2 linked regions of the Homo sapiens genome follow. The protein of the gene in region 1 purifies or fractionates together with the protein of each later gene. This does not show direct contact. Each region holds a gene or a part of one and is shown in the gene's direction. Other genes may lie near its edges.

Region 1 (4,233 bases):
CAAGGGACAGGGTTTCACCATGTTGCCCAGGCTGGTCTGGAACTCCTGGTCTCAAGGGATCCACCTACTTCAGCCTCCCAAAGCCACTGTGCCTGCCCTGGCCTGAAGTTTTCTTGTAAGAAGTGGTGTGTGTGTGTGTGTGTGTGTGTGTGTGTGTGTGTGTGTGCAGAGAGAGAGGAGGGAGGCTTAACCAAAGATTCTGAGTACTACGATAAATACAGAGATACTCAAATTTTCTTCTTTTGTTGATTTTTGACAGTTTGCGTCTTTTAAGGAATTTGTCCATTTCACCTATGCTTATTGGCATAAAAATGTTCATAATGTTCTTTTAATATCCTTGTCCTTTTAATGACTAAATTTCATAGTGATGAAACCTTTTTAATTCCTGATACTGATAATTTGTTTATTTTCTTTATCAGTTTGGGTAGGGGGGTTATCAATTATATTGCTCTTTTAGAAAAACAACTTTTGCATGTATTTCCTTCCATTTATTTCATCCCATTTATTTCTACTATTTATCATTTCATTCATTTTGCTTGCTTTGGTTTCAATATGCTGGGGGTTTTTTCTAGTTACTTAAGACAAAAGTTTATTGAATTGAGTTCTTCTTTTTAATGTAAGCAGGTACTGTTACAAATTTTAGTGTTTTCATTTTAATTTAATTCAACGTATTTTCTAATTTTCCTGTGATTTTTCCTGATTCACAGGTTAGTTAGAAGTATGATTCTTAATTTCCAAATATTTAGAGTATTTCAAGTATCTACTTTATTTCTAGTTTAATGCCATTATGATCAGACTATACACTTTGTACGATTTAAATCTTTTTAAAGTTGATGACATTTGTTTTATGGCTCGGAATATGGTATCGCTTAGTGAATGTTTCATGTGCACTTGACAGGAGTGTGTATTCTGCTATTGTTGGGTTGGTCACCTATAAACGTCAATTAGGTCAAGTTGGTTAGTGCTTTCCAAGTTTTCCATATCCATACTAATTTTCTGTCTACTTGTTCCATCTGTTACAGAGAAAATTAATTGTTGCACTTGCCTGCCTCACAGTCCATGGACAAAAGGCATCTGCATTCTAACAAGAGTTGCTGGCCCCAGAGCGGGAAGAGGGGACGGCGCGACTGTGGGTGTGAACGAGGCACTCACTTCGCACTCACTGGAGTAAATATCTTCTCTTTGGTCCGGCCAGAGGATAAACCCATAGTCCTTAAGTCCTCTCCTCCGCCTCAGCAGCAGTTCTGTTTTTTTTTTTTTACCAGGCCCCGCCTTTCAGCCGAACGCACCAATTAAAGGTACAAAAAAAAAAGTTTCTCAGTACCTCGTCCCGGACTGACGGACTCTCGCGAGAATTCGTGGGGCTCCGACTGTTTCCGCGCAGATATCGCGAGGCGATTGGTAGCCGGGGGAGGGCTGCGCCGTGGCCCCGCCTTTCCGGAGCGCGGGCGCGCGGTGGCGGGAATTTCGCCTGTTTGCGGTTTAGACCCCAAAGATTCCTGTTGGTGGTCTGGGTCACAGGAGGCAGGTTTCGGGAGCTGGAAATGTGAGCGGGTACGACAGGCACCGCGGGTAACCGACGCCCCGGGTCCTTGCTGCAGCCGGGTACGCGGGATACCGGCACCCCGCCTTCTCCGCCCGAGTGCTGCCAGGCGTGGGCCTGGTGGGTCTCGCCTCCTCCTTGGAGGGTCGGGGTTGGCCCTAGGGGTTGCTTTCCTAATTTCCACCCCGAGCCGGGGAGGGAGCGTTCTCCACCCTGCTGCTGGGAAACGGGCGGAGAGTGGTTTAGAAACGTTGCGGAGGGCGCAGTTCTAGGCAAGCCCGGGACGCTATGTCCTGCAGACATTTCTTTGCTTTTCACCTTGTCCTGGGCTGCAGAGCCCGACTTAGTGGCCGGATTTCGAGGTCCCTGCCACAGCCAGTTGGTTGTGCATTTTGTCTTAAGTTCTGACAGCCTTGATGGACGGAGGGCGAGGGGGAATTGGGAATTTGGCCTCTGGGTTTGTTCGTTTGTTTTTCCTTCCTGCTGGCGGACGTCTTGAGAACTTTCTGAAGTAATCCCCACTCTCTCGGCCCCACCCCCCCCCCCCCAACAGGAATCTCTTCACACCTTCTCTTTGGAGCCCTTAATGATACGACGAACCCCAAGTGTTTCAGAACATGAAGTAAACAATGGAGAACTGTTCTGCTGCATCGACGTTCCTGACTGACAGCTTAGAGCTGGAGCTGGGGACGGAATGGTGCAAACCTCCTTACTTTTCTTGTGCTGTTGACAACAGAGGAGGAGGAAAACATTTTTCTGGAGAATCCTACCTCTGCAGCGGAGCCCTTAAGCGGTAGGTAAAACTCAGAGACATTTTCCCTCATCTGATTATTCACCAGTTTTTTAGGAATGTTAGTTATTTCAGCCCATTAAACTTTGGTGTTCACCAAGTCGTGTTTTATAAATCAGCTTAGTATATCATAAGGGTACAAATGATTATCAGTTCTGCTGGCTTCTTGGTAAGGGCATATCTAAAGTATTTGGGGTATTAGGGAAAACTTCCTTGGTAACTGATGTTCCCTTACTGTAGGGAGCTGGGCACTAATTTTTCTTCTACTTAAAATGAATTCCTAACTATCTGAGCCTTTTGCAGTAGTATTTCCTTCTAAAGAGTGTGATAATATTCTAGAGCTTTCCAGTAATATTTAAGAGAGACAAACATTTTTTATTGCCCCTGTTCCTTCTAATCCTACCTGCACATATAGAAGTGTATAGACTTATTTTGCCTTGGGCAGGTACATATATATTACAGTAAAACTGTTCTTGAAATATTTTGGTAATACCTGCTGAGGCAGTTTCAGTGAGGAAACTATTTTTGTTGACCTTATAGTTGTACCTTGTTAGAAATCTTAAATAGAATACTCAACTTCATTAGTTGGATACTATTCTCCAGACATGGCTCAGAATAACTGTTAGCAGTTTTAAAATTAAATGTCCCCTCAAAGGATGAAATTCTACAACTGAAGACTACTGGTGAAGACAGGCAGAAATATGTTTTTTAGAATTCTTGTTGATTTTTCCTCTTAAGTTACATTACACTTTAGTCGTACATTTTATCAATATAGAAGATTGACGTTTTAATACAGTCTAGCTATTGTAATCTTGAATGTGTAAAGTACCAAGGCATTTTCTGACTTTTTATACATGTCATGTATAATATGGATTCAAATAATGTAAAGAAAAGAGCCGTCGTATTATGGTACTTAGTATACTTTTTATGAGATTGAAACAATTTTCATTTCAGATTGATTTTGAATCTTGACCCTTTACCAACTAATTTTGAAGAAGATACCTTGGAAATATTTGGCATTCAGTGGGTTACTGAAACAGCATTAGTGAATTCATCTAGAGAACTCTTTCATTTATTCAGGTATTTCTTCGTTATAACTTTCTGTGAGTGTAGGTGTTGTTCACTTTTGTAAATTACGTTGTTGGGTGGCTTCTAATACTGATATTACAAAAGACCAGAGGAATTGTGCTGGTTGCTCACTTGATTATCTTACCAGTAACAATAATCAAGCAGCAATGCCTGATGAGTAATGGTTTTAATGAGTTGCGTTTTCAGAATCTTTATTCTTTGCATTTGACACATGTATTGACAAATATTTAAGGCTTTGAACTATAATTTTTAGAAGAAAATTAAAATATTTTTGTTGTGCAATAGCCATAGTCTTTCAGTGATCTTTAGAGTATGGTCTTAACAAATAAATTGTTTAGACTGTGTAATAGAAATATTAATTATTTGGACAACATTTAAAATTTTTTTAATGAAAAATTTTAAGCATACACAAAATAATAATATAATGAACATCCATATACCCTCCTTCAGTTGCAGTAAACAACAACTTTTTATTACATTTCCTTCATCTGTCTTGTCTCCTCTTCTTTTGGCCTAAGTATTTGTAAGGAAATCCTAGGCATCATGTCGTTTCACCCATAAATACTTCAGTATGAATTTCTTAAAAATATGTGCTTTTTAAAAACGATGAGGACGGCCAGGCGCGGTGGCTCATGCTTGTAATCCCAGCACTTTGGGAGGCCGAGGCGGGAGTTCGAGACCAGCCTGACCAACATGGTGAAGCCCCTTCTGTACTAAAAATACAAAAATTAGCCAGGCGTGATGGCATGCGTCTGTAATCCCAGCTACTCAGGAGGCTGAGGCAGGAGAACTGCTTGAACCCAGGAGGCGG
Region 2 (3,500 bases), on another chromosome or scaffold:
CCTGTCTCTCCTAAAAATACAAAATTAGCTGGGCGTGGTGGCGTATGCCTGTAATCCCAGCTACTTGGAGGCTGAGGCAGGAGAATCGCTTGAACCTGGGAGGCGGAGTTTGTGGTGAGGCGAGATCACGCCATTGCACTCCAGCCTGGGCAACAAGAGTGAAACTCCATCTCCAAAAAAAAAAAGAATGTAAGAATGTAAGCATGAACATATAAGACTTGGAGATTAAATAGAATGCAGTGGTTTAGAGACAAACACCAGAGTTAGACTGCCTGGATTTTAATCCTGGTCTGACTTTTCATTTGTATGACATTCGGTAAATTGCTGAACATGGCTGTACCTCGATTTCCTCTTTGGTTAAATGGAAGCAGTAGTATCATCTTTGGAAGGTTGTTGTGAGGACTAAATGCATTATAACATCTAAGAAAAGCAAGCAGAGATACTCAGCACTGTAAGCCTCCTGATAGTGTGGCTGGCAAATCTAGAGCCATAAACCACGATTAAGGCCAGAAAATTTACTTTACTCTGAAGGATTTCATAAAGAATCTAGGGTTTTATTTTCTCTCTCTCTTTTTTTTTTTTTTTTTTTTGAGATGGAGTCTTGCTCTGTGGCCCAGGCTGGAGTGCAGTGGCACAATCTTGGCTTACCGCAACCTCCGCCTCCCGGGTTCAAGCGATTCTCCTGCCTCAGCCTCCTGAGTAGCTGGGATTACAGGTGCACACCACCACGCCTGGCTAATTTTTGTATTTTTAATAGAGACGGGGTTTCACCATGTTGGTCAGGCTGGTCTCCAACTCCTGACCTTGTGATCCACCCACCTCAGCCTCTCAAGGTGCTGGGGTTACAGGCTTTAGCCACTGCACCTACCCTCATGATTAGTAGATCACAGTGAATAAAATTAGCAGATCTGTTATACATTTTAATGAATGCTTATTAAACACATCTCTTTGGCAGTGCACCTCCTGATGAGCTGGGTTAGCGTAGGGGTGTGAGGGCCGGGCCAGCTGCTTTGATTGCTGCTTTGACAACAGTATTTTCCCTTGTCCCTCATTGATCCCGGTAAGAGGAAAGTTGTGCCTTTCCTTTGTAAAGTGGGAGGGGATACCCGGGAAAGGACGGCCAGATTGGTGCATAAGTCAGACTCCGAGCAGTTTCAGGCATGAGTGCACGTGAACAAATAGATAGAAAGTGATTCCTCAAGGCCTGGCGGTGCTCACGCATCCTTCTTGATACCTGCATGCTGAGAAGGTAGAGACGCTCACCAGGTGATTCTTCTGCCCTCTCAAGGCTGAGAGAGCTGCTCTGTGAGGGCACGGCGTGGTGCTTCAGGATGTGGCCTCTGCGTCATGTCTGCCTGGGCTTCGGTCCCATCGCGGGGGCTTCCTGGGTGTGCCTTATCAGTGTCGTCCTCTGTAGTGAGTTCAGGCATCACAGCAGCTCTCTTATGGAGTGGCTGTGGGAAGGAAATCCAAGAATTCATGGAAAGCCTCCAGTCCAGCGCCTCGTCCCTCATACACTTGCAGTCGGTAGGAGCCGCTTTAAGCTGATAACTTCCTCTGTGATTTGTGATTGGAACATCAGCATTGAAAATGTTATGTGCCATATGAAGTGCAAAAGAGAAGAATTTACTGGTAGGATGTCTTTGCAAAAAATCCAAGGTGTCCCTGGGAAGTGGCTGCAGAAGAGAATGTTTCAGCTTGTGGAAATAATGAGCCCGTGCTGGGCTTTGCCTCAAGTGCGGAACATCTGCCTTCACGTTCTTTCGAGCCTGCTGTATAGTTCCCATAGGGAACTATACCTTTGAAATAAGTGACTCCTGGGAGGGGTTGCAGTGCAGTCACATGTTGTTGAATGGACACGTGCTTGTTTCGCTCCACTGTCAGGGTGAGAGTTTCTTTTTTTCCAATTTCTCTTATATCCTCTGAAGAAGGTTGGTTTGTTGGATTTTTTTTTTTTTTTTTTTTGAGATGGAGTCTCGCTCTGTCACCCAGGCTGGAGTGCAGTGGCGTGATTTCGGCTCGCTGCAAGCTCTGCCTCCCAGGTTCACGCCATTCTCCTGCCTCAGCCTCCTGAGTAGCTGGGACTACAGGTGCCCGCCACCACGCCCGGCTAATTTTTTTTTTTGTATTTTTAGTAGAGACGGGGTTTCACCATGTTAGCCAGGATGGTGTCGATCTCCTGACCTCATGATCTGCCTGCTGCGGCCTACCAAAGTGCTGGGATTACAGGCATGAGCCACCGCGCCCGGCTGCTTTTTTTCCAGTTTCTCTAACCTCATATCTGAATGTTCTTAAAACTGTAGGAAAATTTAGTCTCTCTTCTGCCTATGATCGTTTCTGTGGCACTCTTCTGTCTGAACTTGACAAGCAGATACAGGTGAGAGAATGCAGGTGGCTAGCTAATTTATAATTGACTCTAACCCCAGATCAACCTGCTCTGATCAACCTTTCAGGCAAGGACCTACTTTCTGGCTCACATTTTCCCTTCCGTCAAAGGCGTTACCACTCGGATGTCTTCCTCAATGGTGTGTTCCTGCTCCTTTTGCCCTTCCAGTTGTCCTTCCCGAAACCCTGAAAAGGTGGCTTGGAGCTATTGCTGCTCCTCCATGCGTCACCTAATCGTCATCTCTGATCTGTATTTAGGTGATCATTTAACCTGTCTTACCTTTATTTACTTTTTAAAGGAACTTTTTATTTTGAAATAATTACAGGCTTGTAGGAATTCGCAAAATAATTCAGAGAGTCCTGAACGTCTTTCCCCCTGTTCTCCCAGGGTGGAGAGACATTACATTGCTGTGGCTTTTCGCAACCGGGAAGTTGACATTTGGTGTTACTGTCAACTGCACCACAAACCTTAGCCAGTTTTCATCATCTTTTTTTGGTCTCCATTCATTTGTACATGGGCGGATGGTTCTGTGCAATTTTATCACAAGTGCAGATTCATGCAGCAACCACAATGGTGAAGATACAGGATTGGCCACCACGGCACAGCAACCTCATGCCTCATCTTTGTATTTGTACCCACTGTACCTTCATCCTTGTCCCCTCGAAACCATTCATCTGTCCTCTCTCTCTGTAGTTTTGTCATGTCGAGAATGTTCTGTAGATGGAGTCATATGTTATGTTTGTAGATGGACCTCTGACTAAGCACAATGCCCTGGAGTTTGTTTTGGCCATTGCGGTGGCAGCGGCCGCCGCTCTTTACTGTGGAGTGGTATTCCACTGTAAGGATGGCCCAGGGGTTGCTCAGCTGTTCATGCATTCACACGTTGAAGGACTTGGGGGTGATTTTTGGTATTTTGCTATGATGAATAAGGCTAATGTGAACATTTGTGTCTAGGTTTTGTGTGAACACAAGTTTCCATTTCTTCCTCAAGGATTTTCTAAATTTCTGGAGGGCAGCCTGGCCTGATCCATAGTATGCAAATTAAGGAAATATTTCTAATCATTTGACTCCTAGAAAGAAAACAGAGATCCAGCAGAAGGGTGCTGTTGCAGAG

Evidence for each region. The genes of interacting proteins can lie anywhere in the genome.
Region 2: the proteins of MMS22L (region 1) and PINX1 purify together in Homo sapiens (co-immunoprecipitation; one large-scale study listed by IntAct). This does not show direct contact.

Annotation. Positions count from the first base shown.
Region 1 is NC_000006.12:97,280,417-97,284,649, reverse strand, and holds the start of MMS22L (protein MMS22-like), read left to right. Parts: upstream 1-1,433; 5' UTR 1,434-1,554; exon of another isoform or gene 1,555-1,663; intron 1,664-2,096; 5' UTR 2,097-2,172; coding exon 2,173-2,336; intron 2,337-3,287; coding exon 3,288-3,413; intron 3,414-4,233. UniProt on the Homo sapiens protein: Component of the MMS22L-TONSL complex, a complex that promotes homologous recombination-mediated repair of double-strand breaks (DSBs) at stalled or collapsed replication forks.
Region 2 is NC_000008.11:10,826,376-10,829,875, reverse strand, and holds part of PINX1 (PIN2/TERF1-interacting telomerase inhibitor 1), read left to right. Parts: intron 1-3,500. UniProt on the Homo sapiens protein: Microtubule-binding protein essential for faithful chromosome segregation. Mediates TRF1 and TERT accumulation in nucleolus and enhances TRF1 binding to telomeres. Inhibits telomerase activity. May inhibit cell proliferation and act as tumor suppressor.